Regions from separate parts of the Homo sapiens genome. Here all the other regions are linked to region 2. Evidence: fine-mapped expression QTL. A gene starts in region 2. Each other region holds a variant in brackets. All regions are shown on one strand. Distances are from middle to middle. Region 1 overlaps PPP2R3C (protein phosphatase 2 regulatory subunit B''gamma). Region 2 holds the start of FAM177A1 (family with sequence similarity 177 member A1). Region 3 overlaps PPP2R3C (protein phosphatase 2 regulatory subunit B''gamma). Region 4 has its middle 37 kb from the start of BAZ1A.

What was found. PIP is the estimated chance that this variant, and not a neighbour inherited with it, causes the effect. A credible set is the group of variants that fine-mapping cannot tell apart.
Region 1: its variant is the best candidate, but not a certain one, in a credible set for the expression of FAM177A1 in whole blood (INTERVAL, PIP 0.57).
Region 3: its variant is the best candidate, but not a certain one, in a credible set for the expression of FAM177A1 in skin (TwinsUK, PIP 0.71).
Region 4: its variant is the best candidate, but not a certain one, in a credible set for the expression of FAM177A1 in cerebellar hemisphere (GTEx, PIP 0.74).

The regions. Positions count from the first base shown.
Region 1 is chr14:35,110,745-35,118,201 of GRCh38, reverse strand. PPP2R3C (protein phosphatase 2 regulatory subunit B''gamma) reads left to right here. Exons shown (of 13, transcript NM_017917.4): 2 at 1,465-1,592. LOC101927178 (a long non-coding RNA gene) reads right to left here. Exons shown (of 5, transcript NR_110415.1): 5 at 5,072-5,338. Among named protein-coding and RNA genes, the nearest start is that of PRORP-PSMA6, 7.4 kb to the left of the region's middle. RefSeq lists an enhancer at 4,872-5,653. The variant A/T (reference allele first, on the strand shown) is at 4,303.
Region 2 is chr14:35,043,054-35,050,510 of GRCh38, reverse strand. FAM177A1 (family with sequence similarity 177 member A1) reads right to left here and starts at 4,239. Exons shown (of 5, transcript NM_173607.5): 1 at 3,883-4,239. The coding sequence starts at 4,047. RefSeq lists enhancers at 3,370-3,429, 3,530-3,799, 4,520-4,719 and a silencer at 4,050-4,399.
Region 3 is chr14:35,102,652-35,110,108 of GRCh38, reverse strand. PPP2R3C (protein phosphatase 2 regulatory subunit B''gamma) reads left to right here. Exons shown (of 13, transcript NM_017917.4): 4 at 178-290; 5 at 1,873-1,970; 6 at 2,735-2,805. LOC101927178 (a long non-coding RNA gene) reads right to left here. Exons shown (of 5, transcript NR_110415.1): 3 at 7,380-7,428. Among named protein-coding and RNA genes, the nearest start is that of PRORP-PSMA6, 15 kb to the left of the region's middle. RefSeq lists a silencer at 7,213-7,380. The variant AT/T (reference allele first, on the strand shown) is at 3,445.
Region 4 is chr14:34,908,521-34,915,977 of GRCh38, reverse strand. No RefSeq gene overlaps it. Among named protein-coding and RNA genes, the nearest start is that of BAZ1A, 37 kb to the right of the region's middle. The variant C/A (reference allele first, on the strand shown) is at 4,244.

The DNA.
Region 1 (7,457 bases), 68 kb before region 2:
TTTGTTAAAACAGTTGTTGGTTAAATCTGTACTCGTCTCGAATTCCTGCTTGTCAAGAATCATCAGTGACTGCTATATTGTTAACTTCAGTGGTCAGTTGTCAGTCTTGACTTTGCTTGAAAAATTTTGCAGTTTTCTACAACAGCACTGAGCCATAGTAAAGAAATTAACTTATAGGTTTGGTCTAAGGTTAAAAATTAACATAATAGGCCAGGCATGGTGGCTCATGCCTGTAATCCCAGCACTTTGGGAGGCCGAGGTGGGCAGATCACCTGAGGTCAGGAGTTCAAGACCAGCCTGACCAACATGGAGAAGCCCCATCTCTACTAAAAATACAAAATTAGCCAGGCGTGGTGGCACATGCCCGTAATCCCAGCCACTCAGGAGGCTGAGGCAGGAGAATCCCTTGAACCTGGGAGGCGGAGGTTGCCGTGACCCGAGATCGTACCATTGCGCCCCAGCCTGGGCAACAAGAGTGAAGCTCCATCTCCAAAAAAAAAAAAATTAACAGATGCAGCAGAAATGCAGTCATAAAAGGAATTCAAGGAAACAATTACAGGCTTGTTGGGAAGGAAATGAGACCAGAAAGAGTAAAATAACTTTTGAGAAAATAGATCACAGAATTCAAGAGCTCAGTGAGGCTGAAGTGGAAATGGTATGGCAGTGAGGTTTTGAATTACCAGAAAGGATGATCTGAGAGTATATTTGAGCTTAAGATTTCAGAAAGGGATCAAGTAAAATCTGTGATCTTGTCATAGAACCAAATGGCAGAATGAACTAGAGGTGAAAGTCTTTGGAGTTGCAGGACCCATGGTCACCCACATAAATGTTTATTCATCCTAAATGATTGCAGGACCTTGTGAAGAACACTGTGTACCAGTCACCATAGTCCACAAATAAGTGGGGAGGAATTGGCTGAATGAGACAGCCACGTGCCAATAGCAGGCGAGTTGCAGGGTAATAGAGCCCTGAGTTTTGAGCTTCAGACAGAGGATGAGTTTTTTTGTTTGTTTTCTCTACATTAGGTAGAGAAACAGTGATTATGAGGCTGAAACTCCATGAGGTCAGGGGCTGGGGCTGTCTTGCTCACCCCTCATTCCGTGTCTACTACAGCGTTCTCTGTACATAGTAGGTGCTCAGTAAATTCTTTTCATTGAATGAATTAGGAGCACTCTACAGAGTTCTGTAGGAGAGGTAATTTGAGGAAGAGACTAGCTTTAGCGATAAACAGAAGTAGAGGGAGCATGAGAAATGGTTGAAGATGTAGAGGAGGCTGCTTCAGTAGAGGGTAGTGATTCTTGGTATTTCAGAAAAGTTAATATGCTCAGTGTCTAAGCACAATTGTGAAGGCCTTTTTGGCACTGCAACTATTTTAATTAAACTATTAATATAATATATAGGATGACCTGAGTAAAAGTACTGCTTGATTTTAAAAGTGCTCCCCTTAATCTGTTTTGTTACCAGAAAAAAAAAGTGAACAAGAATTAAAAGATGAAGAAATGGATTTATTTACAAAATATTACTCCGAATGGAAAGGAGGTAGAAAAAACACAAATGAATTCTATAAGACCATTCCCCGGTTTTATTATAGGGTAAGTAGTGTCTAATCAAATGTCCTGCAGAGTTTAAAAATGAAATATAATTTTTGGCAAGGCAGGGTGGCTCATACCTGTAATCCCAACACTTTGGGAGGCTGAGGCGGGAGGATCACTTGAGTCCAGGAATTTGAGACCAGCCAGGGCAACATAGCAAGATCCCATCTCTAAAAGAAATTTTTTAAAAAATAGCTGGACATGGTGATGCATGCCTGTAGTCCTAGCTTCTCAGGAGGCTGAAGCAGGAGGATTACTTGAGCCCAGGAGATCGAGGCAGCAGTGAGCCGTGATTGTGTCACTGCACTCCAGCCTGGGTAACAGAGTTAGACCCTGTCCTCCCCACCCCCAGAAAAAAAAGTAGTTTTAAAAATAGGACCAGAATTTTATGTTTTAAAAATAGAGAATTATATTTTAAATTTTATATATTATTTTATTGTAATTGATCTTATCACTATTATAAAACATTTTGAGCCCAATAAAATCCCAAGTTTAGATTTAAGTGGGTATGTAAACACAAAGTTGTTAAACTGTGGGCTTTTTCTTTCTGATTTTTATTATAGATATTAGTAGTAAGTATTCTATTGGATTATGTTATCAGGTATACACTTTGTTATAAAGTTTTAAAATTTTGCTCAAGGCTAAACCGAAAAATAGATTATGGAAAACCTAAAGAATTTCACTTGAGGCCAGGCATGGTGGCTCATGCCTGTAATCCCAACACTTTGGGAGGCCAAGGTGGGTGGTGGATCATGAGGTCAGGAGTTCGAGACCAGCCTGACCAACATGGTGAAACCCTGTCTCTACTCAAAATACAAAAATTAGCCAGGCGTGGTGGCGCGCGCCGGTAATCCTAGCTACTCAGGAGGCTGAGGCAGGAGAATCACTTGAACCCAGGAGGTGGAGGTTGTAGTGAGCCCAGATCGCGCCACTGCACTCCAGCCTGGGTGACAGAGCAAGGCTCTGTCTCAAACAAACAAACAAAAAAGGAATTTCACTTGATTATTTTTTCCTTGTGCCAAAACTCTGAAAATGGCTATGAAGGGACGTATAGACAAAATAGACCTTAAGAAAAGCTATTCATGGTAGGGTCACTGCACTCCAGCCTGGGTGATAGAGCAAAGACCCTGTCTCAAAAAAAAAATGTTGGCCAGGTGTGGTGACTCACACCTATAATCCTGTCACTTTGGGAGGCCATCAAATCAGGAGGATCACTTGAGGCCAGGAGTTTGAGAACCAGTCTGGGCAACTTGGTGAGATCGTGTCTCTCCAAAAAAAACTTAGCCGGGCATGGTGGTGCGCACCTGTAGTCCCCGCTACTCAGGAGGCTGAGGTGGAAGGATCGCTTGAGCTCAGGAGCTTGAGGCTGCAGTGAGCTGTGATCATGCCACTGCATTCCAGCCTGGGTGGCAGAGCAAGAGCCTATCTCAAAAAAAAAAAAAGAAAAAGAAAAAAAAAAAAGCCGTTTACAACCTGGCAATGGTAGGGCAATTCGCCTGTAGTCCCAGCTACTCTGAGAGGGTGAGGAAGGGAGAATCTCTTAAGCTCAGCAGTTTGAGACCAGCCTGGGCAACATAGTGAGACCACCCCACACCCCATCTTTTTGTTTTTTTTTTGAGATGGAGTCTCACTCTGTTGCCCAGGCCGGAGTGCAATGGCACGATCTCAGCTCACTGCGACCTCTGCCTCCCAGGTTCAAGTGATTCTCCTGCCTCAGCCCTCCTAAGTAGCTGGGATTATAGGTGTGCGCCACCACGCCCAGCTAGTTTTTGTATTTTTAGTAGAGACCGGGTTTCACCATGTTGGCCAGGCTGGTCTCGTACTCCTGATCTCAGGTGATCTACCTGCCTCGGCCTCCCAAAGTGCTGGGATTACAGGCGTGAGCCACCATGCTGGCCCATCCCATCTTTTTTTTTAGAGGTCTATTTTTTTTTCTTAAGGTCTATTTTGTCTATTTAAAAAAAATAAAAATAAAAAGCTATTTATACCTGAAACTGAAATCTACTGAAAAATACCTATTTAGTATTATACAAGTTAACTGGAATCTTAGCTGGATGTTCCTTGAACCTATTACCTTCTAACTCTATTAATTACAACGTTATTTGCAAGTATAGTAAACAATGATTTAGCTGGTGTTCTTACAGATTAAGGTATTTATATAAGTGAGTTATCCAGATACTGAAATATTTCTTCAAGTGCAAATTTTTTTCAACCGAACATTTTTTATTGGAAACCTTCCTATAATACTATATACTTCTCAACCTTTTAAGAATCATATGCCTGTAATCCTAGCCTATATTTATTGTAGAAAAGGAAAAAATATGGCTAAACAAGTTGATCTCTTCCCATGACAACATCACCCAACAATGTAAACAGAACATTTTATATGAATCTTTCTACATATTTCTGTGGGTATCTGTGTATTTTTTTAAATGGGATTACATCATACATACCTTTACTGCTTTTTGCATTTCACACTCTCCTTAAACAGAGGCAGCTAAATAACTGAATATTTTTGATAGCCGAGGGGAGAGAGAAGGGAATTGACATTTATTGAGTGTCTAAGCACTGCAGAGCCCTTTGTATTCTTTATCTCATTTAACCTGGATTCTTAAATAATATGTTACTGTTATCGAACATAGGTTCTTGGGTTCTCAATGCAAAAGGGAGAGAGAGCACCTGACTCTGAAAAGAGCTGGTAGGGCTTTTT[A/T]AAAAAAAATCAGGAATTGATATTAGGGTGGGGTATGCAGGCTGGGCTGGGCAAAGCAGATCAGGTAGGGTATGCAGGTCAGCATTGTCTGGTTGCTATGGTTATCTTGAGCAGCGGGCCACCTGGTCTGGCTAGAGGCAACAAGGCTGTAAATCAGTTGTTCAGCATTCCTTCCCCAGATAGGACACTCACTTCACAACTTTGGTTATCTCCTAGTTACTGGAATTCTTTTGAGTAAAAGGCATGGTTTGGACATTATGGTGTCAGTGAGGTAGTGGTGTGGGTTTTGTGATCAGTGGGAATGCATGAAAAGAGTGCCATAGTGGGAGTGAGCTGACCCAAGCCCCCATTCCTACTCTGTCTCATTCCTAACAGCTCTTGGATAGGAATGGTGTGACCCCGTTCCTGAGCCCAGGACTGAACTTTCTTGTACTTCCGGGACCAAACCTTTGCCTTCTTTTTCTGGTTCCTGAGGGAATCTCCTTTTTTTCCTTTCTTCGTGTCACTTCTCTCTTTGGCCACCTCTAGATCTTAGATGGTCTCCTGTCTGCAGCTATGGATTTGTAAAAAAGTCCTTTCCCTTCTTTCTTCTTCCTCTCCATGGTCCCACTGCTTCAGAGAAAACACCTATTATCTTGAGTCACCACTTCTCTCCTTGGCTGATTAGCTGGTTAACTAGCCACTAGAACACAATGTCAGTCACCCCCAACTCCAGCCCCATCCCCATCTCCTAATGTTTCTTCTGTTGACGAAGAGTTGAACTCTGTAAAATATTTGAAGAGATTTATTCTGAGCCAAATATGAGTGGCCATGGCCTGTGACACAGCCTTCAAGAGATCCTGAGAACATGTACCAAAGGTGGTTTGGGTGCAGCTTGGTTTCATACATTTTAGGGAGGCATGAGACATCAATCAAATACATTTGAGAAATACATTGGTTTGATCCAGAAAGGTGGGACAATTTGAAGTGGGGCTTCCAGGCTACAGGTAAATTCAAATGTTTTCTGGTTGACACTTGGCTGAGTTTGTCTAAAGACCTGGGATCAAACAGAAAGGAATGTCTGGGTTAAGATAAGAGGCTGTAGCGACCAAGGTTTTATCATGCAGATGAAGCTTTTAGCTAGCAGGCTTCAGAGAGAATAGGTTGCAAAATGTTTCTTATTAGACTTAAAGTCTGTGTTGATGTTAATGCCAGAGAGGTATAACGAGGCATGTTTGACCCCCACTTCCCATCATGCCCTGAAACAGTCTCTCAGGTTAAATTTTAAGGGCGCTGACTGAGGAGGAAGTCCATTCAGATGGTTGGGGGGCCTTAGAATTTTATTTTTGGTTTATACTCCTTTAACTCTGTTCCTTCTGATGGGAGGGATGGCATCTTAGTTCCTGGAAATGAAAGATGAAAACCATAACCCCAAGTTTTGACGTAAGGTTTACCGAGGTAATTTAATGGGGCTAAGATGTAGAAAAGGAAGAAGAACTCTTTAAAGTAAATTATTCTGGCTGGGTGTGGTGGCTCATGCCTGTAATCCTAGCACTTTGGGAGGCCAAGGTGGGAGGACTGCTTGAGTCCAGGACTTCAAGACCAACCTGGGCAACATAGCAAGACCCTGCCTCTATTATTAATTTAAAAAAGAAGAAATAAAGCAAATTGTTCTAAGTCAGGTTGGAATGAATCATTCTAAAGCTCTGCTCATGGAAATCACCCCAGTTGGCAAACCCTCTTGCCTGGGAGGCCAACATAATAGGCACTGCCTTGACTGTCTCCAAGAAGAAAGGTGATCCAATCTCAACAGGCATGCTTTCCTAAAACTGGACAAGAAGAATAAATGGTTTTTGCTGGACAGGAAGAATTACAGGTAAGAACCACCCAACAGGTTCTTCTTGCCTGCTACCCAGATAGAGCCAATTTATCAAGATGGGAATTGCAAGAGAGAAATAATTTCATATACATGGAGACAGCTAAATGGGAGACAGGAGTTTTATTATTACTCAAATCAGCCTTCTTGAAAAGTTGGAGGCTAGGGTTTTTCAAGGATAGTTTGGTAGGCAGGGGCTAGGGAATGGGTACTGCTGATTGGTTGGGGATGGAATCACAGGGATATAGAAAAACAGTCCTGGTCCTTGCGTGCTGAGTCTGCTTCTGGGTTGGGGCCACAGAGGAGTGGCTGGTCTGAGAGGGGCCATTGGGTAGTCAGAAGTGCAAAAGCCTGAAAAGACATCTCAAAAGGCCAGTCCTGTGTACTACAATAGTGATGTTATTTACAGGAGTAATTGAGGATGTTGCAAATTTTTGTGCCCTCTGGAATAATAACTGCTAATCATTTAACTGACCTGCATCTTAGCAGAATTCTGGTCCTTCGCATCCTCCTGACCTGGTGTCCTTTCATTAGTTTTACAAAGGCAGTTTAGTTTTGGGATGAGCTATTATCATTTAAATCATAAACTAAATTTCTCCCAAATTTATTAATATCTTGGCCCATGCCCAGGAATGACCAAGGGCAGATTGGAGGTTAAAAACAAGATGGAGTTGGTTAGGTCAGATCTCTTTCACTGTCATCATTTTGTCACTGTTATAATTTTGCAAAGGTGGTTTTGAAATTGTCAATCTCCAGTTAATCCTCATTTAATTCTTCTATATCATTCTTTTTTTTTTTTTTTTTTTTTTGGTAGATGGAGTCTCGCTCTGTTGCCAGGCTGGAGTGTAGTGGCGTGATCTCAGCTCACTGCAACCTCCGCCTCCTGGGTTTAAGCAATTCTCCTGCCTCAGCCTCCTGAGTAGCTGGGACTACAGGCACATGCCACCATGCCCAGCTAATTTTTGTATTTTTAGTAGAGACGGGGTTGCACAGTGTTGGCCAGGATGGTCGATCTCTTGACTTCATGATCCGCCTGCCTCGGCCACCCAAAGTGCTGGGATTACGGGTGTGAGCCACTGCCCCCAGCCAATTCTATATCATTCTAAGGAAGCCAGCATGCCCAGCCAATTCTGTGTCATTCTAAGGTGACAATAGAAACACAGTGCTTTAAGAAAATAAAATGAAACTTGGTCTAGACTAGCTTTTAGAATGGCTTTTTCAGGGCAGAGATCCAGCCTTTCTGATCACCGATTCTCTGTGGATCAGTTTTTGTTAAACAAATGTTAAGCACAATTAAGGT
Region 2 (7,457 bases):
CAGATGAGGGATAATGATTCCAACCTCTATTTGGGAGGCGGGGTGGGGGGCAATGAAGGAAGCACTAACAGGTAAAACCAACCAGAAAATCATTTGATACAAAATTCCCAATAATTATATTTTTAAAATATTTTTCTTTTTTTATTTTTCAAACATCAACTTGAACCAGAAATCCAATAATTACAAATAAAATTTACACTGTGGCTGGGCATGGTGGCTCATGCTTGTAACCCCAGCACTTTGGGAGACTGAGGCGGGCAGACAACTTGAGGTCAAGGGTGTGAGACCACCCTGGCTAACATGGTGAAATCCCACCTCTACTAAAAAAATACAAAAATTAGCCAGGCGCGGTGGAGCGTGCCTATAATCCCAGCTACACAGGAGGCTGAGGCAGGAGAATTGCTTGAACCCGGGAGGTGGAGGTTGCAGCGAGCCGAGATCGCGCCATGAACTTCAGCCTGGGCAACAGAGTGAGATTCTGTCTCAAAAAACAAAAAAAGTTACACTGTGAATTTTCCAAATGCTTCATTTTATAAATCTGCAAGTAAGAAAAATTTCACTGCCAATTATGCAAATTCCATAACGAACCCCAAAGATCTGAAAGATAGTTTCATAACACCAGGAAATTATGAGGTACCATGTCAATTAACATTTTACTCCATTTTATAGTTAACCAAACTATAAATGTGCTTATCTTTATTCTCAGGATCTGTTTTTTTCTTTTTTGAAAAGGAGTCTTGCTCTGTCATCCAGGCTGGAATGCAGTGGTGCGATCTTGGCTCACTGCAACCTCTACCTCCTGGGTTTCAGCGATTCTCCTGCCTCAGCCTCCCGAGTAGCTGGGACTACAGGCGTGAGCCATAATGCCCAGCTAATTTTTCTATTTTTAGTAGAGATGAGGGTTTCATCACGTTGGCCAGGCTGGTCTCGAACTCCTGACCTCAAGTGATCCACTGGCCTCAGCCTTCCAAAGTGCTGGGATTATAGGTGTGAGCCACTCTGCCCAGCTCAGGATCTGGTTTTAATGGCAATTTTTTGTATATACTCCCATGGCACCCAGACTTCTTTAAAACACATACTAGACTTAGAATTTATTCTTTGTCATCTTCCCCAACTAGGCTATTAGCAACATGGGGGTAGGTACTGCTATATCTTTCAGCCTAGAGTTCCTGGCACATAGTAAGTGCTTGGTAACAGAGGTACCAAATAAATCAATCACTGAGTGGTACTGAAATTTTAACTCCTTTAAAAACATTGAGGCTGAGATTCTGGTTAAAAGTCTATTCAGAGAAGCTGCTGGATAGAATGTCACAACAGGAGGCCGGGTGCGGTGGCTCACACCTGTAATCCCAGCACTTTGGGAGGCCAAGGCAGCAGGTGGATCACAAGGTCAGGACTTCAAGACCAGCCTGACCAAGATGGTGAAACCCCACCTCTACTAAAAATACAAAAATTAGCCAGATGTGGTTGCGTGCGCCTGTAGTCCTAGCTACTCAGGAGGCTGAGGCAAGAGAATTGCGTGAACCCGGGAGGTGGAGGTTGCAGTGAGCCAAGATCATGCCACTGCACTCCAGCCTGGGCCACAGAGTGAGACTCCGTCTTAAAAAAAAAAAAAAAAAGAATGTCACAACAGGTACTGGATGGCCTGTTTGGAGGCCTAATTCTAGACCCTATCTCCTATCTCTTACTCCCTTTCCCTACATTGCACTAGGGATTTCTCAGTTCTGCCAAACTTGGGAAGAAGTGTAAGATAGAGGCCTCTCCATCTCCTGAGATGTCCACTTCCCTGTTACTGTGCTCAACCCCCTGGGCATAGAACTGGAGTTCCCAAAGATGTTTCTGATTCAGGAATGTGAATCTGAAAGCACAAAGGGCAAATCAGAAAATGGAACTCATTGGTGTTTAACAAGAAAGAAGAGATATTTAATATTTAATAATATATATAATATATAAGAAATATATAATATTGAATGATAAAATTCCAGAGAGACTACACCAAAACTTAATAGTTACCTTTGGGGAATGAGAACATGAAGAAAGGGTGGTGGTGGGGTATTCCTGTGAATTTTTATCTTTTGTTCTACAGCCTTCTTTACTGGTTAAGTACTTATTTGTTAACCAAGAATGTGAAAACAACAGAATATCACTAACCCCAATCAAAGAGCCTCTCACTTCAAACAACATTTAGCTGGTATATAAGTACACGTGTGTTTACTTTGCTATTAGATCCAGGGCGGAGGTAGTGATTTTAAAAAAACAATTCTAGTAACAACAGGAAAAATCAAATTGAAAAACATATCAAGCACCATGGACTCAAAGGTTAAGTGTAAGTGCACTTGCCAACAATAGGTCTCAACTCAACTGAAAATGACGTGGCTTCCTTATCAATTCATGTTGTCCCCTGAATCCCCTTCTTAAGTAGGAGGGAAAAAACGTATTCCATATAGAGTTTGGTATGTGGGAAAGTTGTGTTTTTTGTTTTTGGGGTTTCTTTAGTTTTTTATTTAAGAGATGGGTTCTTGCTCTGTTGCCCAGGCTGGATAAGCTTTTGTTAATGCAAACGACATCTTATACTATAAGAGATACACAGAGATATACTCACAGTTTGGGGGAAATGTCTTACTAACATTCAGGTACTTAGTCTCAAAAATGAAGCTACTGAAAAAGCTTCATTCTCATGGAGGATGGGAAGAGTTACATACATGAGCAACTCAAGGGTTTTTTTTTTGTTGTTGTTGTTGTTGTTGTTGTTGTTGCTGTTTTGAGACGGAGTCTCGCTCTGTCTCCAGCCTGGAGTGCAGTGGCGTGATCTCGGCTCACTGCAACCTCCACCTCCAGGGTTCAAGCAATTCTCCTGCCTCAGCCTCCCGAGTAGCTGGGACTACAGGCGAGCGCCACCACGCCCAGCTAATTTTTGTATTTTTAGTAGAGAAGGGGTTTCACCATGTTGGCCAGACTGGTCTTGAACTCCTGACCTCAGGTGATCCACCCGCCTTGGCCTCCCAAAGTGTCTTTTTGTCTAATACTGAAAAGTTGCAAGAAACGTTAACTCTCTAAACCAGCGCTGTCCAATACAGTAACCACTAGCCACATGTGGCTAATGCGCACTTGAAATGTGGTCAGCCAGAACTGCGATATGCTATGCGTGTAAAATGCACCCAGGATTTAAAAGACTTAGAAAAGACTCCAAAAGAGAATGCAAATACTTCATTAATAACTTTCATAGTAATTTTAGGTTGAAATTGTTTTGATAAATTAGGTTAAATAAGATATGCTATTAAAATTAATATCGGTTTCACTTTTTTAAAACGTGCCTACTGGAAAATTTTAAATTACAATTTTCAATGCAGCTTGCATTCTATTTATGTTGGACAGCGCAGCTCGGAGCCTTAGTTGCCTCGGCGGTGAAATGGGGCTAACACCCACCTCGAGCGGTTACTGTAAGGATCCAGTGAATTAAAGCTGGTAAACGTTTGGCATATGCCAAGCAAAGGGCAGATGCCCAGGCAGGCGCTCGCACCAGAAGAGACTGAGAAGTGGTTGAAGCCGCCCTCACCTGGCTTCCAGCTACTGCAAGGACAGCCTTTGGGGGACACGCCTTTCTTCTTCCTCTGGTAGACCAGAAGCTGGACTATCACCCCAGGAACCCGAGGCCGCCCCAGAGTCTGCTGTGCTGCCAGCCAAGGGGTTGGTGAGTGAGGCGGGGGGCGCTCCTTCCCACAAGCTGGTCTCAGTGAGCAGAAACAGGGGTGCAGTGAGGAGGAACTCCAAAGCTGGGGCGGCCTGCTCGGAGGACGGCCGCGCAGGCTAAAAGAGCGGCCCGCGGAGAAGGCAAGGAGGCGGCTCGGCTCCCCGGACGTCAGCCTCGGCGGCCCCACCTACCTGCCCTGCAGATTCCCCGAATGCCGCGGCGGCCGCAGCTCCCGAGGCTGCGACGGCTTCTCCTCGTTCCACACCGCCCACTGGCTCCTGGTCCATCGTCGTCGCCACCACAGGGCTGCTGGCGCTGGTGAGAAAGAGGGTAATGGCCGGTAAGCCCACTTCCATCCTTGGTCTCCCCGCCCAGTCGCTGGCCGAGCCAGGCTGTCGGGAAGTGGGACTCACCCGCCCAGCGCCCGCCTCGCGCCGCGCCTAGCCAAGTCTCTGAGAAGGGGACTCGCCGGCCTGAGGGGCGGGGCCAGCCCGCGCCTCGCCTAGCCCGCCGGGCTCCGCACCCCGAGAGCTGGCCAACTGCAGTCTGGGAGGCGCAACTACCGGCTCGCGCGGGGCGGGGCGGGGCGGGGCGGGTCCTTGCGGGGCGTCGCTTCCGGCCAAGCAAGCATCCAGAGCTCGTGGATCCCCGCCTGGCACCGCCTGTGACGTCATTTCTGGTACGTGTACCTGAAGCCTGGCGTCTCGACCTCGGCGCAGCCCGTCACCAGCGGCGTCTGGGGCAGTCACCCCGCAGGACCTCGGTTTTTGCACTTGTAAAATGAAGACAGCTGTGTCGTTGTACTTCAAAGGCTAGTGATGGGATGTGGTTGCTGAAAAATGTAAAATGTACGGCTCGTGCTGCACTTTCCATTCCAAACGTGGGTGACAGTCCAGCCAAAATACCCTCGAAAGAAGAACCCCAGGCGTGATATTTGCTTACTCTTGTCTGAAATACTTAAGTATAACTGTAGAAAGTGTTAAGTGAAAAGACCTGAAGGAGAGCAAAGGGCAGTAGTAAGCTTCCATCTTGACAAATGTAAGGAATGTTTTATCTGTGTCTTAAAGTCGTGTGCGTATGTTAGAGGGGGCGTCCCAGATTTTTTCCGTCTTTCGCAATGTTCAACGAAAGTAAAAAATCATGCAATTACTGCATGACTTCAACATCAAACAAGTCTGAGGTTCTGCAGGTAAATGGTATATTGTTGTTTTAGCATGAAAGTTTTCACAAATATGTAGGGGGCAAAACCAAAACATACATTATTTTGGCTATGGGAGGCTTCATTTGATACTTTAAATTCCATTTTCATACTAGTCTCAATTCAGAAATGCTCCCTAAAGTTGTATGACCTTGTAAATGTTTTTCATCATAGCAACAGCAGGCCCAAATATTAAATATTCCTTTCTCTTCTGTGCCAAAGTTCTTCTCCTTACCCTCTGCCTAATGTTATTGTACACTTCCTATTCTATGTATAACTGGAACCTAAAAACAAAACCAAAAACTTTAAAAAACAAATAATCATTTGAAAACCATCTACGCCTTAAAAACTAGTTGGAAATCCATATTGCTCTCTATCCTGGTAATAAAATCAAGTTAGGTTGCTGCTGAAGTAAACAAGTTAGTACCTGATCTGACTCTGTATGGTGGCATCAGCAGGGAGTTGAGACAGTCCAAAACAGCAAAACCAAACTCGGCCATAAATTGAAAACAAAAATAAAGAACCAATTGTTAAGACTTCATGAATTGGCATTCATAAACAACACAGTTCTGCATTATATGTATTCAAAATCTCTTCCTTCTTACTGGCAAGCAGGGCAATCAACAATCTTTATTACTAAAACTTTGTGGGATATTTATAAATGCATGATTTTATTTTCCAAAGTGGCAATTAAATATCAAATTACAATTTTCTTTTTCTTTTTTTTCTTTTTTTTTTTTTTTGAGATGGGGTCTCACCCACGCTGGAGTGCAATGGCGCAATCTTGGCGCACTGCAACATCCGCCTCCCGGGTTCAAGCGATTCCCCCACCTCAGCCTGCCAAGTAGCTGGGATTACAGTTGTGCACTACCACGCCCGGCTAATTTTTGTATTGTTAGTAGAGACGGGGTTTCACCATGTTGGCCAGGCTAGTATCGAACTTCCGACCTCAGATGATCCACCCACCTCAGCCTCCCAAAGTGCTGGGATTACAGGCGTGAGCCACCACGCCTGGCCTCAAATTACAATTTTCATTGCCGAAGCAGAATATATTTTCACAGTTTACATGTGTATTTCTTAGTTTACTGAAAATTCAAAGTACAAGTTACATTCTAACGTGAACTGGAAGTATTTCCTAAAAAGTTATTTTTAACACAAATATCCAATTGAAGAGCAGTTTATTACAAATCAACAACTCGGGCTGGGCACGGTGGCTCACGCCTGTAATCCCAGCACTTTGGGAGGCGGAGGCGGGTGGATCACGAGGTCAGGAGATCGAGACCATCCTGGCTAACACGGTGAAACCCCGTCTCTACTATAAAATACAAAAAATTAGCCGGGCGTGGTGGCGGGCGCCTGTAGTCCCAGCTACTCGGGAGGCTGGGGCAGGAGAATGGCGTGAACCCGGGAGGCGGAGCTTGCAGTGAGCCGAGACCGCGCCACTGCACTCCAGCCTGGGCGACAGAGCGAGACTCCGTCTCAAAAAAACAAAAACAAAACAAATCAACAACTCAAAGCAACATAAAAGCATAGAAATTCTAATGGTTTTATTTTGGACATTTATATTTTTGTCATTATTTCCAAACTGTTATAGCTCAACCAAAAGTAGGCACCAAGGCAATGTGCCAAATTTTTCCTTCTTTCACTTTGTAACATAAATTGTATCGTAGCACTATGACAAAAATAAATTCAAGTATTATGATAATTTATCTACTTGAAAACATAATGTGGTCTAAATTTATCATTTAATGATACATATAGAGCTAAAAAGGTAAATTTGGATTGAACCATTTCTGCGTAAGGCTGGGAAAATAAATCTGAATAAAATTTGATAACCAGGAATGTTCATCAAATAAACAAGACATTCTTAGGGTTTTAACATAGCTACATATATATACTTTGATAGAGAATTTTTTAAGTTATCCATCAAACAGGACAATATATTTTCATCAAAAATAATGCACAAGAAAAAAAGATGATAAAAATAAAAATGCATTTTAGGTTCAGTCTAAGCATAAAGAAATTTTTTTTTTTTTTTTGAGACAGGGCCTTACTGTATCACCCAGGCTGGAGTGCAGTGGCACAATTATGGCTCACTGCAGACTCAGACGATCCTCCCACCTCAGCCTCCTGAGTAGCTGGCGTGTACCATCACACCTGGCTAATTTTTATATTTTTTGTAGAGATGAGGTTTTGCCATGTTGCCCAGGCTGAATAAGTTATTAAAATCATGGTAGTGGTTTCACTTATGGAGCACAATATGCCAGGTACTTTGCTTTCTTTGTATTAACTCTTATTCCTCACAACAATTCTGAAGTATTACTGTAACTACCAACATGTTATAGATGAGGAAACAAAGAGAAGTTAAGCAACTTGCTCCAGTGACGCAGCTGGTAAGCAGCAGAGCTGGGATTAAAACCCAGGCATTCTGATTCCACCACCTACACACTTAGCCATTCCGCCCCACTGAGAATGAAAATGTCAAAAAATACTAGGCCAGTAAGTGTTAGCAAGGCAAGAAATTTCCACACCAAAGGTGAGTATGTTGTTTGGAAAGATTGGGATGGA
Region 3 (7,457 bases), 60 kb before region 2:
CACTCAATAAATGTTATTTTTATTGTTAGTAATCAAAAGGATAATAGGGCATGAGATTCATCTTAATATTGACTCTGCCAACAAACTCTCATTTTAGTGGAAAGCACACATTTAACTACATATTAAAATCTTGTTGTTTTTAACTTACAACATCTTCACTTCCACAATTCTCTTAAGAACTTATGGTTTTTGCTGGACAAACACCAGACACCACCTATGATTGGAGAGGAAGCGATGATCAATTACGAAAACTTTTTGAAGGTTGGTGAAAAGGCTGGAGCAAAGTGCAAGTAAGAATAATATAATTAACAAAAGAATGTGTTATGTTAAGCATTTTAAATGCCTCAAATATTGGCTGGGCACAGTGGCTCACACCTGTAATCCCAGCAGTTTTGGAGGCTGAGGTGAGAGGATTGCTTGAGCTGGGGTGTTTGAGGCCAGCCTGGGCAACTTAGGGAGATCTTGTCTCTACTAAAAAAATTATCTGGGTGTGGGGGCGTACACCTGTAGCTACTCCGGAGGCTGAGGTGGGAGAATTGCTTGAGCCCGGGAGGATGAGCTGTGATTAAGCCACTGCACTCCAGCCTGGGCGATAGAGCAAGACCTTACCTTTAAAAAAAATAAACAAATCCTCAAATATTAAATGAAGTAAATGGAATGACATTTGAGTCCATTTAAGTTACTAATTAAATTTAATAAAATTATTTACAGTCAAAAAATCACATTGGTATGAAGTTATTAAAATAAATAATATAGCCAGGTGTGGTGGCTCATGCCTGTAATCCCAGCACTTTGGGAGGCTGAGGTGAGCGGATCACGAGGTCAAGAGAACAAGACCATCCTGACCAACATGGTGAAACCCCGTCTCTACTAAAAATACAAAAATTAGCTGGGCGTGGTGGCGTGTGCCTGTAATCCCAGCTACTCAGGAGGCTGAGGCAGGAGAATCGCTTGAACCCTGGAGGCGGAGGTTGCAGTGAGCCGAGATCGTGCCACTGCACTCCAGCTTGGCAAAAGAGCAAGACTCCATCTCAAAAAAAAAAAAGAAATAATATAGTTTATGACACTTTCAGCCTTAAGACAGACGAAAGCAAACAAAAAAGAATGCAAGGCCAGGCACTGTGGCTCACGTGCCCATCTCTGCAAAATAAAAAAAACTTTTAATTAAAAAAAAAAAGAATGCAAACATTTATGACTTAGGCTAGGCATGGTGCCTCACGTTTGTAATTCCAGTGCTTTGGGAGGCCAAGGCAGGTGGATCACTTGAGGCCAGGAGTTCGAGATCAGTCAGGGCAACAGAGCAAATCTCTGTTTATATATATATATTTATCTTTTTTTTTGAGATGGAGTCTTGCTCTGTCGCTAGGCTGCAGGGGAGTGGCGCAATCTCAGCTCACTATAACCTCCGCCTCCTGGGTTCAAGTGATTCTCCTGCCTCAGCCTCCCAAGTATTATTGTATTAACAAAAGAATATGTTAAGCATTTTAAATGCCTCAAATATTGGCTGGGCCAATATAAATACAATATAATACAATATAAATACCCAATACAAATACTTTTTGTATTTTTACTAGAGACGGGGTTTCACCATGTTGGCCAAAATGGTCTCGATCTCTTGACTCATGATGTGCCTGCCTCAGCCTCCCAAAGTGCTGGGATTACAGGCAAGAGCCACTGCGCCTGGCCAAATCTCCATTTCTTTTAAAAAAAAAAAAAAGTTTGACTTAATATTTTAAGTTTTTGAATTATAAGGAGTCTCTATTGTTCTTTCATTTTTAATTGTATGAATTTATGCCATTGTTTGCTAATTTATGTAGAAGTCATTTTCTTTTATGTTGGCAGATCATTTAAATCTTTATTTTCTTTTCTTAGGCAATTTTTCACAGCAAAAGTCTTTGCTAAACTCCTTCATACAGATTCATATGGAAGAATTTCCATCATGCAGTTCTTTAATTATGTCATGAGAAAAGGTGATTCATTTTTACTGTGCTTGAACTCCTTATCTGGGAATCAAGTAGGTTTTTGGTCTGTGCTTTTATAAGTATTTCTTCTATGTGAAATCACTCTAAGTTTGAATAGTAGAATTTCTTATCTTTTGACCAAGATGTGTTACATAAACTTGGGTTAGCATAAAAAAACAAAAATTTTTTAAACCCTCATGTGTCTTAAAGATAATAGTAGACTAGAAATATTAAGAGCTGAACCAAGAGTTTTAATGTATGGTAATTTGAAATAATTTTAATTTACTGATAATTTTATTTTACCAGTATATTACAAGTTGAGTTGACTGATAGTTTCAAACCCAAAGCTGTAATATCAGTTTCAAGGAGCATCAATTAAACAGCTTGGACTTATGATTCCTACAAGTGCCATAATAATCTGTGAAAGCCTATTGTATACAATCTTTAATAATTGGTTGCTGTAATTAACCTCAGAAATAAAAGCAGCTTCACTGAAGGCATAATATTATACTAGCTGTCCCTGTTTGGTGGAACACCAAGTTTAATTGGTAAAGAACAGTATCTTCAAGGTGTCAATTTTATTATAGCTTTAGTCATGGTAGAATTGTTGAACTCTTCCATTCTATGGTTTTTTGTTTCAAGCAATTTTGTGGTGAGAAGAAATGTTTTTAGAGTTACTAGATTAGCTTGTCTCAAATCTGGCTCTTTATCTCCTTTTTCATATCTGAAGGATAGATCTTAAGAATTACTTTCATTTTCTTGTTTATTGTCAGTTTGGCTTCATCAAACAAGAATAGGACTCAGTTTATATGATGTCGCTGGGCAGGGGTACCTTCGGGAATCTGTAAGTGTTAACCTTATAGATATTATATTAACTCTTATAGACACTAAAATGTAAACTGTAGTTATCACTGGGTGTTGGGATTACAGGCTGTTCTCATAATACTTTGTTTTATTTCTGTCTGTGTGTGTTTGTGTGTACATATTTAGTTTTACTGTAACAAAGCAACTTGTACACTTTCAACTTTTAAAATTGAACATCATCTTTCCAGTGAAACAAAAAACAAATTTAAAATAAACAAAATTACAATAGAGAATGTCAATTCCAAATAAGATCCTACAGGTTCTACTGATTCTCCCATGGAGTAGCAGCCTTCAAGTCATCATTAAGAGAGAATTTATGCTGGGTGTGGTAGCTCACACCTGTAATCCCAGCACTTTGGAAGGATGAGGCAGGCGGATCACCTGAGGTCGGGAGTTTGAGACCAGCCTGACCAACATGGAGAAACCCTATCTCTACTAAAAATACAAAATTAGCCAGGCTTGGTGGCACATACCTGTAATCCCAGCTACTTGGAAGGCTGAGGCAGGAGAATCACTTGAACCCAGGAGGCAGAGGTTGCTGTGAACCGAGATAGCGCCATTGCACTCCAGCCTGGGCAACAAGAGTGAAACTCCGTCTCAAAAAAAAAAAAAAAAAAAA[AT/T]GTATTGGCTGGGTGCAGTGGCTCACGCCTGTATTCCCAAGGCCTGTACTCCCAGCACTTTGGGAGGCTGACGTGGGCGGGTCACCTGAGGTCAGGAGTTTGAGACCAGCCTGACCAATATGGTGAAATTCCATCTCTACTAAAAATAGAAAAATTTGCTGGGCTGTGGTGGTGCATACCTGTAATCCCAGCTATTCAAGGGGCTGAGGTGGGAGAATCGCTTGAATCTGGGAGGCAGAGGTTGCAGTGAGCCGAGATTGCACCACTGCACTCCAGCCTGGGCAACAGAGGGAGACCCTGTCTCAAAAAAAAAGAGAGAGAGAATTTATTTTAAAGGTGTCATTTTAAACTGCAAGGATGCCCCTTAAAAATCACAATTAAACATGCCAAAGGAAAAGCAACGTTGTCAAAATGCTCACTTTAAACTATCAAAACGTTTCAAACCTACCCTTTGCTGACCTATAACCCCATTTTGTAAAATTTATTTTCTTTTTTTAAATAAGAGACAGTAGACAAGGATGCCGGGCGTGGTGGCTCACGCCTGTAATCCCAGCACTTTGGGAGGCCGAGGCGGGCGGATCACGAGGTCAGGAGATCGAGACCATTCTGGCTAACACGGTGAAACCCCATCTCTACTAAAAATACAAAAAAAAATTAGCCGGGCGTGGTGGCAGGCACCTGTAGTTCCAGCTACTTGGGAGGCTGAGGCAGGAGAATGGCATGAACCCAGGAGGCGGAGCTTGCAGTGAGCCGAGATCACGCCACTGCACTCCAACCTGGGCGAAAGAGCGAGACTCCATCTCAAAAAAAAAAAGACACAGTAGACAAGGAGATGTTGGTAAATGCTAACTGTCCATATTCACATAGAGACATAGTATACTCTGCGCTCAATAGAGGAAAGCAGCTAGAATTCTATGCACGACTACACAAGGGCCTAGCACCTTCCAGCTTCCAGCAGAGCAAAGGGAACAGGTTTTTCTTTTTTTTTCCATAGACCTCGGTGGTGTTGATTCCATATAGTTTTTGTTGAGACACAGGATGTTTCCGTTTTGGGGTTTGGTTTTTTATTTTTATTTTTTTTAACAAATGACATGTGTTACTAAACAAATGTTTAATGTATATTGACTATACAAATTCCTTTTTAGATTCTTTTTCTTCAAACTTTAAAAAAAAAAGGCCTTTTGGCTGGGCGCGGTGGCTCATGCCTATAATCCCAGCATTTTGGGAGGCCGAGGTGGGCAGATCTTGAGGTCAGGAGTTCAAGACCAGCCTGACCAACATGGAGAAACCCCGTCTCTACTAAAAATACAAAAATTAGCCAGGCATGGTGGTGGCCACCTGTAATCCCAGCTACTCAGGAGGCTGAGACAAGAGAATCGCTTGAACCCAGGAGGTGGAGGTTGCAGTGAGCCTAGATTGTGCCATTGCACTCCAGCCTGGGTGACAAGAGCGGACTGTCTCAAAAAAAAAAGCCTTTTAAAGGGGAAAATAAAAAGAATGTAGCATTTTAACATTTAAAAATCACTGAAAAACGTTTGATTATTCATGAGTGATATTAATGTGTCACTATTTTTTAAAGGGCCAAGAATTCCACCCCCCCGCTTTTTTTTTTTTAAGAAAATATAAGAGAAGCCAGACACGGTAGCTCACGCCTGTAATCCCAGCACTTTGGGAGGTGAAGGCGAGTGGATCACTTGATGTCAGGACTTCGAGACCAGCCTGATCAACATGGTGAAACCCTGTCTCTATTAAAAATACAAAAACATTAGCTGAGCATGGTAGCAGATGCCTGTAATCCCAGCTACTAGAGTGGCTGAGGCAGGAGAATCGCTTGAACCCAAGAGGCAGTTGCAGTAAGCTGAGATCATGCCACTGCACTCCAGCCTGGGCAACAGAGCAAGACTGTCTCAAAAGAAAAAAGAAAATATGAGAGAGAAAATGAATGTGACTGTATTCCCACCTCTGGGTTTAAGATTGCTAGGTCAGTTACCAAGAGGCTGCTTGTTTCCTATTAGGCACTGCTGTAATTAGGCCAAGTTATCAACAGAGAATTATAACTTCATGGTCCAAATGGCTATGCTTCTTCTGAGTATGGGTATCTAAATTATATGGACTTACTTTTCACCTCAGGCTTTTTTCCCAAATATACAGTGCTTTTTTTAAGATTGTAGGGGAGAGGGGAAGGGAGTTGGGCATGAATATAAACTAGGTTAATTAATCAAATAATTATTCAGATATAAGGGTTAAAGAAATGTAAATTTCTTGTTATAGTTCGTATGGTTCCTGCTATAATTTGTTGCATTCTGTTTTGTCTAGATTTCTGTAGATAGAATCTGTTAGCTCATTCTGAACATTTATACTGTAAAACCTTTCCAGGGGCACACTACAGTTCTCTTTAAGGTTCAGACCAACTTGAGAATAAAAGGCTCTTGCTTCTGGCAAGGAAGACATAATTAGCCACCTGCTGGTACTCGTTTAGAGGTCAGGTCCAAAACTGGAGTACTTCTCTAGCTCTGAGAATTCTTGTTAGCAGTTCACTTGATTTATAAAAACAGCAATATTGATTTATAAAAACAGTCCCCTGTTACTGCTTGTCTTGCCTCTTTCCATGGATGGAAACAAAGATTGAAAGAGAGATGAGCAAAAGGGAGAGAAAAGAAACAGTGTACTTCTATAGTTGTTTTTAAAAAGGAATAATTTTCCCCTTCTCTCAATGAAAGAAAACACTTTTCTCAAAGTATTTCTTCCATCCTTGGCCCATTGCCTTTTGAAACCCAGACTTTGTGTCTTACTAATTTGAAAGGCAGTGGCTTCCAGACCAACATTTATAATCTGAGTAGAGTATACAAAGTTTTATTCACTTATTAAATCTTATTAAGCATTTAGTAGACATTTATTTGGGGGCAGGTATTATTCTAAGCTTGTAGGGCTCATGTTTTACTTTGTGACAATCTGTTTGCCCAGATTTCTTTTTTTTCTTTTTTTTGTTTTCTTGCCCAGATTTCTGTAGATGGAATCTGTTAGCTCATTCTAAATGTTATACTTTAAAACCTTTCCAGGGACACAGTACAATTTTCATTCCCTTGTAGACCTATTTTTTCTAGCAGAGTGGGAAGACAGACACTAAATTATAAGCAGATAATATCAAATAGTGACAAGTTATATGTAGAAAATAAAACAGTAAACTAGGCAGGAATATGACTGGGATTGACAGACGATTTTAGGTAGGCTGGAAGGAGCATCTTTTTGAGATAGTGATTAAGTTTTAGCCATGAAGTACGAGAAAGAAGCCAGCCTTATGAAGATGTAGTATAGAGGAAACGGCAAATACAGTGTCTCCAAGGCAAAATTAAGCCTGGACCTGTTCTAGGAACAGAAGGAAGCCAGTGTGGCTAGAACAAGGACTATAGTAACAGAAAATGAAGTTGGAGAAGTAGGCAGGGGCCACATGTAGGGCCTTTTGGGCCACAGTAAGGACTTTGGATTTATTTTGAGGCTAACGGGAAACCATCGGAAGTTTTAAGCTGAGTCTGTCAGGATATGATTTACATTTTAAAAGATCATTCTGGATGCTGTATGGAGGATGTAAGGAACTCAAAGTACGGCCAGGCACGGTGGCTCATGCCCGTAATCCCAGCAACTTTGGGAGGCCGAGGCAGGTGGATCGCTTGAGCTCGGGAGTTCAAGACCAGCCTGGCCAACATGACGAAACCCCGTCTCCACTAAAAATACAAAAATTAGCTGGGTATGGGGGTAGGCACCTGTAATCCCAGCTACTTGGAGGCTGAGGCAGGAGAATCACTTGAACCCAGGGGATGGAGGTTGCAGTGAGCCAAGATTGAGCCACTGCACTCCAGCTTGGGCGACAGAGCAAGGCTCCATCTCTAAATAGATAAATAAATCTGGAGTATAAGCAAAATATTTAGGCACCTACCATGATAGTCCAGGTGAGATGATGGGCCCATAACTAGGGTAATTGGTGGCTGTAGAGAAAGCAAGAAATAGATTAATT
Region 4 (7,457 bases), 130 kb after region 2:
GAGGTCAGGAGTTTGAGACCAGCCTGGCCAACATGGCGAAACCCCATCTCTACTAAATATACAAAAATTAGCTGGGCATGGTGGCGGGCACCTGTAATCCCGGCTACTTGGGAGGCTGAAGCAGGAGAATTGCTTGAACCCGGGAGGCAGAAATCGCAGTGAGCAGAGATCGTGCCATTGCACTCCCTCCTGGGCAACAAGAGCGAAACTCTGTCTCAAAAAAAAAAAAAAAGAATGTTGACTCTGATCAGTAATTCTACAAGAAATTAAGAAATTATTATCACATTTGGCAAAGGGAAAGTTGTTTAGTTAGCACTAAATAAGGTGGTGGCAGGACACAGTGGTCACGCCTGTAATCCCAACATTTTGGTAAGCCAAGGCAGGCAGATCACATGAGGCCAGGAGTTTGAGACCACCACGTGGCGAAACCCCATCTCTACAAAAAATACAAAAAATTAGCCAGATGTGGTGGCACAGCTACTTGGAAGACTGAAGTGGGAGGATCACCTGAGCCTGGGGAGGTCGAGGCTGCAGTGAGCTGTGATGGCGACACTGCACTCCAGTCTGGGTGACAGAGTGAGACCCTATCTGAAAAATAAAATAGCTGGGCACAATGGCTCACACCTGTAATCCCAGCACTTTTTGAGGCCGAGGAGGGAGGACTGCTTGAGCTCAGAAGTTTGAGATCAGGGTGCGCAAACATGACAAAACCCTGTCTCTACAAAAAATTTTAAAATTAGCCAAGTGTGGTGGTGTGAGCCTGTGGTTCCAGCTACTCGGTAGGCTGAGGTGGGAGAATCACCTGAGCCCAGGGAGGTCAAGGCTGCAGTGAGACCTGATCGAAACACTGCACTCCAGCCTGGGCAACAGAGTATGAGACCCTGTCTCAAAAATAAATAAATAAAATAAAGTGGTAAAGACATATTAAAATTAGTGCCCCTTATGTGATTAAAATATATCATCACTATCATTGTTTTGGAAAGTTGAGAAGTATTAAATATCAGTATTTTACGAATCATGGTCATTTTTCCTTTGTTGAATGTTCAACATACATTTTTTAAAAAAGAAGTCTAGGCTGGGCACAGTGGCTCACGCCTGTAATCTCAGCACTTTGGGAAGCCAAAGCAGGTAGATCACGAGGTCAGGAGTTCAAGACCAGCCTGACCAACATAGTGAAACCCAGTCTCTACTAAAAATACAAAAATTAGCCAGGCGTGGTGGCACACGCTTGTAATCCCAGCTACTCAGGAGACTGAGGCAGGAGAATCGCTTGAACCCAGGAGGCGGAGGTTGCAGTGAGCCAAGCTTGCACCACTGCATTCCGCGTGGGGGACAGAGCGAGATTCCATAAAAAAAAGAAGTCTATTGAAACCATTTTTCTAGCAAACAAAAAAAACAAGTTTAGAATAGTTTTACTAGGAAACCTTTATCTTCAGCAGGATACAGGCTAAAAAAATTTTTTTAATAAAAAAAAGGAAACCTTTATCAAAATTCTCACTAACCTTATAGTGAATAGAAAGTATACGTTAAGAAGTAACAAAAGATATCTGAAGTCTAAAAACAACTCACCTGCCAACAAATTATATGATCTTGGACAAGTCACTAATCACTGCTTAATCATTGTTTCTTCATCAGCAACCTGGAGGTAATAATGCATCTCCAACCTAGCTGAGATGGAAGTTTACATACAGTAAAATAATGGATGAGTAAGTGCTTTGGAAAGCATTGCATGCTGCACTTATAATTATTGTTGTTAATAAAGATAGTTTTAAACAAAAACCATGGTAAGGAGAGGGAGAAAGACAAATTGAGAGATATATATCTATATATCTTTTTTATTATTTATTATTATTATGATACTTTAAGTTTTAGGGTACATGTGCACAACGTGCAGGTTTGTTACATATGTCTACATGTGCCATGTTGGTGTGCTGCATATCTTACATTTATACATATCTTACATTCATACATATCATATGTACATATATATACATATGATATGTATAAATGTAAGCCTAACACAAGATGGACAATAATCAAGAAATTTTAATTATTTTTATTCTATCCTATTAAACTAATTATTCTTTTTTTTTTTTTTTTTTTTTTTTTACAGTAGAGACCAGGTTTTGCTGTGTCACCCAGGCTGGAAGGCAGTGACACAATGATCATAGCTCTCTGCAGTCTTGAACTCCTGAGCTGAGTGATCCTCCCACCTTAGTCTCCTGAGTAGCTGGAACTAATAGGTGCGCACCACCATGCCCGGCTAGAATAATTATTATTGTCCTATTTAAATATTATTTTCATACTTGAAACAATATTTTCCTGTGGTTTAGCCCTACTCAGATATTAGTGGAAAGCAGCTGACACATGTAGTCCAAACCACAGTTTCATTAAACTAATGAGAAACTACCAGTCTATCCTTGGAATCCTGGGTTGTTCCAGAGGCGTAGAGTAGGATTAGCACAGATCTAAGGGACTCAAGCGAGTGGGGGTTCCTTATCACCAAAACCGTAAATGTATTATAGATTCTCCTGGGAGTTCTGCTACGTTTCAGATAGTATGTGCTACCAGGGGATTCCAATTAGCATAAGCATAAGAAGTAACAGGACCAAACTGGGTTTTTTGTTTCACTAGAATTATCCTTTCCTGGGCATTTTCTGGAATTTAAGTACGACCCGATGATACATTAGATAACAACTGATCAGATTAGATGCCCTAAACGTCCCAAATCATCAGGGACTAGAGATTGAGTTACGATTGTCCCAATAGTATAAATTTGTGGTTTTGTGGGTTCAGTCTAGGTCCTGCTGCTCGCTACACAGAAAGCCAATGACTGAGACAACGGGTATTGCCAAGGCAAAAGGCTTTGACCAGGTGCTGCAGTGGAGGAGATGGGAGTTCAGTCTCAAATCCATCTCCCCTGCCGACTAAAATTAGGAGTTTATATAGCAGGTAAGAAATATAACAATGTGTAGGAAAACAAGAACTCGGGGAAGGTTAAGGAAGCAATCATGATGAATGAGGGGCCTGGCCTCTCATTGGATGAGATGATCCAGTGAGTTTCAATTATTTGATACTTTCCCAGAGGTCTGGGGGTCCTTTCCTGAGGAAGTAACTCAGATAAAATAAATGTAAGTTTCAAGCTTTAAGACCAGAAGTGTCAATTTCTATAGATAGATAGATAGATTTTTTTTTTTAATAAAATCTCAAACTCCTGGGCTCAAGTGATCCACCTGCCTCAGCCTCCCAAAGTGCTGGGATTACAGGCATGAGACACCGTGCCAGCACATCCAACATTTTCTAATCTTCCCACATTTCTGACCCTTCGCCTACACTTCCTTACTTTTCATCAACTGACCTGAAAACAGATGTCCTCAGATAAAACGCGTCTTAACTTCCTCAAATTAAACTAATTCAATATATATAATTTCACTTCCCCCAGTCAGCACCTTTCTTCCTATTTAACAGTTACCTGTGTTCTTAATTCCATTTTAACCACCTTGTGCTATCTTAATTATTCTATTCTATTATTTATCATCCTCCTCCTCAGTATACTTCCTCTTAGTTGGATCTTACTATCTTTTTTTTTTTTTTTTGAGACAGGTCCACTGGAGGGCAGTGGCGTGATTACAGCTCACTGCATCCTCGACCTCCCAAGCTCAAGCCATCCTCCCACCTCAGCCCCTCAAGTAGCTGGGACAACAGGCACCAGCATGCCCAGCTAATTTTTGTATATTTTGTAGAGAAGGGGTCTCACCATGTTGCCCAGGCTAATCTCGAACTACTGAGCTCAAGCAATCTGACCACCTTGGCCTCCCAAAGTGCTAGGATTATAGGAGTGAGCCACCACGCCCAGCCTCCATTAGCATTTTAACCTACTTAAGTTTCTGCCATCAGCACCACAAACAAAACCAGAATATTCTTTGACCTTTTATCTCTCTCAGCTACTGCCCTGTTCTTCTCACCTAACCTTCTTGAAAGAATTGTATACACTCACTATTCTTCACTTCCCACTCATTCTTTGGTCCACTGCCAGCTGCCTTTGACCACTAACATTCCTCTACAAGGCCACTAACAACACCCGAGTCTCAGAAATCCAATAAACACTTTTAAAAAAATTGAGATATGATTCAAATTTCATAAAATCTCATAAAATCCTATAAGACTCACCTTTTAAAGTGTATAATGTATCTTTTAAAGTGTACAATGCAGTGTTTTTTAGTATATTCATAAATTCATTCAA[C/A]TATTACCATTTAATTTCAGAACATTCTCATCACTCCTGTATCCATTAGCAGTCACTACCAATTCCCCCTCCCTACAGCCCTTGACAACTGCTAATCTATTTTCCACCTCTACAGAGTTTCCTATTCTGGACATTTAATATAAACTGAATCATACACCATGTGACCTTTTGTGACTGGCTTCTTTCATTAAAGATAATGTTTTGTGTATTTATTTATTTTTAGCTATACCTACTGGAATGGGATTTCTTTTTTAGTATAATGTTTTCAGGGATCATCCATGTTGTAGTACGTATCAGCACTTCATTCCTTTTTATTGTGCAATAATATTCTGTTGTGCGGATATACCTCAGAGTGGTTATGCTATTTTGTTTATCCATTCATTAGTTGACGGACATTTGGGTTGTTTCCACTTTTTGACTATAACGAATAAAGTTGCTATGAACATTCAGGTACAAGTTTTTGTGTGGACATATGTTCTCAATACTCTTAGGTGGAATTGTGGAATTACTAAGTCATATGATAACTCTGTTTAACCCTTTTCGCCTTTGCCCCAAGAATACCTGCCAGCGGTGCTTGCAGCTGCAGCATTTACTCCAAGATAACCTTGCCACAAAATATTGTTGTATTATTAATACATGAGTAAGCATATTAATATTTATTATTATTTTTGCATTGCTCTAGTGTATTGACTTTGGAAACAAAAACATTATTCTATTTATAGTATTCTGTTTTTAGTTGTATTTCCGTTTATAAAATATAGTAATTCTTGATCACTGAAAATGTCAAATCCTAAAAAACGTAGCATCGTTCTCAAACAGTTGTTGGCTGAAGATTCATTTGATGGATCTGATTTTTCTGAAATAGACGATTTTGATGGTTCAGATGATTCTGATGTTAGTTCTGTTTAGAAATAACTCCAAGAACAGTTTTTATATTTTATTTTCACATGAAAATCAGTCAGATTTTCTTCAGCCTCAAAGAACATGTTTAAGTAAAATTAAATGAGTGCTGGCATCGAGCTGTGTTTTTTTAAAATCTAAACTGGAAAAGGGTTAAATTTTGAGAAAGTGCCAAACTGTTTTCCAAAGCACCTGCACCATTTTACACTTCCACTGTTAATATACAAGAGCTCAAATTTTACCAACACTTGTTATTATCTGAGTTTTTCTTCCCAGCTGATCTAGCAGGTATGAAGTAGTATTCAATTGTGGTTTTGAAGTTGGATTTTTCTAATGATTAATAATGTTGAATATCTTTTTATGTGCTTATTGGCCATTTTTATATCATCTTAAGAGAAATGTCTATTCAAGTCCTTTGCCTACTTTTCACTTGGGTTTTTTTTTTTTTTCTTTTTTTTTTGAGACGGAGTTTCGCTCTTGTTGCCCAGGCTGGAGTGCAGTGGCACAGTCTTTGCTCACTGCAACCTCTGCCTCCCCAGTTCCAGTGGTTCTCCGGCTTCCACCTCCCGAGTACCTGGGATTACAGGCATGCACCACCACACCCAGCTAATTTTTGTATTTTTATTTTTTGAGATGGAGTCTCACTCTGTCACCCGGGCTGGAGGGCAATGGCATGATCTCGGCCCACTGCAACCTCCGCCTCCTGGGTTCAAGCGATTCTCTTGCCTCGGCCTCCTGAGTAGCTAGGATTACAGGCATGCGCCACCACGCCCGGCTGATTTTGTATTTTTAGTAGAGACAGGGTTTCTCCACGTTGGTCAGGCTGGTCTCGAACTCCTGACCTCAAGTAATCTGCCTGCCTCGGCCTCCCAAAGTGCTGGGATTACAGGCGTGAGCCACCATGCCCAGCCTGTATTTTTATTTATTTATTTATTTATTTTGAGATGGAGTCTCGCTCTGTTGCCCAGGCTGGAGTGCAGTGGCATGATCTCAGATCACTGCAAGCTCCACCTCCTGGGTTCATGTCATTCTCCTGCCTCAGCCTCCTGAGTAGCTGGGACTAGAGGTGCCCGCCACCACGCCCGGCTAATTTTTTTGTATTTTTAGTAGAGACGGGTTTCACCCTGTTAGCCAGGATGGTCTCGATCTCCTGACCTCGTGATCTGCCCGCCTCAGCCTCCCAAAGTGCTGGGATTACAGGCGTGAGCCACCACGCCCAGCCTGTATTTCTATTTTTTGAGATGGAGTCTTACTCTGTCATCCAGGCTGGAGTGCCGTGGCACAATCTTGGTCCACTGCAACCTCCACCTCCTGGGTTCAAGCAATTCTCCTGTCTCCGCCTCCCAAGTAGCTGGGACTACAGGCACACACCACCACACCCAGCTAATTTTTGTGTGTTTTTTTTTTAGTAGAGGTGGGGTTTCACCATACTGGCCAGGCTGGTCTCACACTCCTGACCTCAGCTAATCCACTTGCCTCTGCCTCCCAAAGTGCTGGGATTACAGGCATGAGCCATCACGCCCGGCCTAAAAGCTTTTAATTTTTCTGAAGTCCAATTTATCTATTTTTTCTATGGTTGCTTAGGCTTTAGGTATTATATTTTAGAAACTATTGCCTAATCCAAAGTTACAAAGGTTTTGTTGTTGTTGTTGTTTTGTTTGTTTTTGAGTTGATTTCTCACTCCTGTCTCCCAGGCTGGAGTGCAGTGGTACAATCTCAGCTCATGGCAGCCTCCACTTCCCGGGCTTAGGTGATCCTCCCACCTCAACCTCCGGAGTAGCTGGGACTACAGGTACATGCCACCACACCAGCTAATTTTTTTGTATTTTTAATAGAGACGAGGTTTTGCCATGTTCCTGAGGTTGGTCTCAAACACCTGTGCTCAAGTGATCTGCCCATCTCAGAAGTGCTAGGATTATAGGCATGAGCCACCTCACTTAGGCATGAAGATTTATACCTATTTTTTATTCTAATACTCTTGCAATTTTAACTCTTACATTTAGGTCTTTGATCTGTTTTGAGTAAATTTTTACATATGGTATGAGGTAGGGGTCCAACTTTATTATTTTGCATGTGGACATCAAGCAATTCTCCTGCCTCTGCGTCTGAGGAGGTGGGATTACAGGTGTGCACCACCATGCCCAGCTAATTTTTATATTTTTGATAGAGACGGGGTTTCACCATGTTGGCCAGGCTGGGACTCCCTCCTTTTAAAATACTCTTTTTCTGTGACTCTGCTCAATTACCTGGCATCATAAGAATTATGCCTGCTTTAGAGATTATACAAAGCATACCCATAAATAAGTGCATGGTA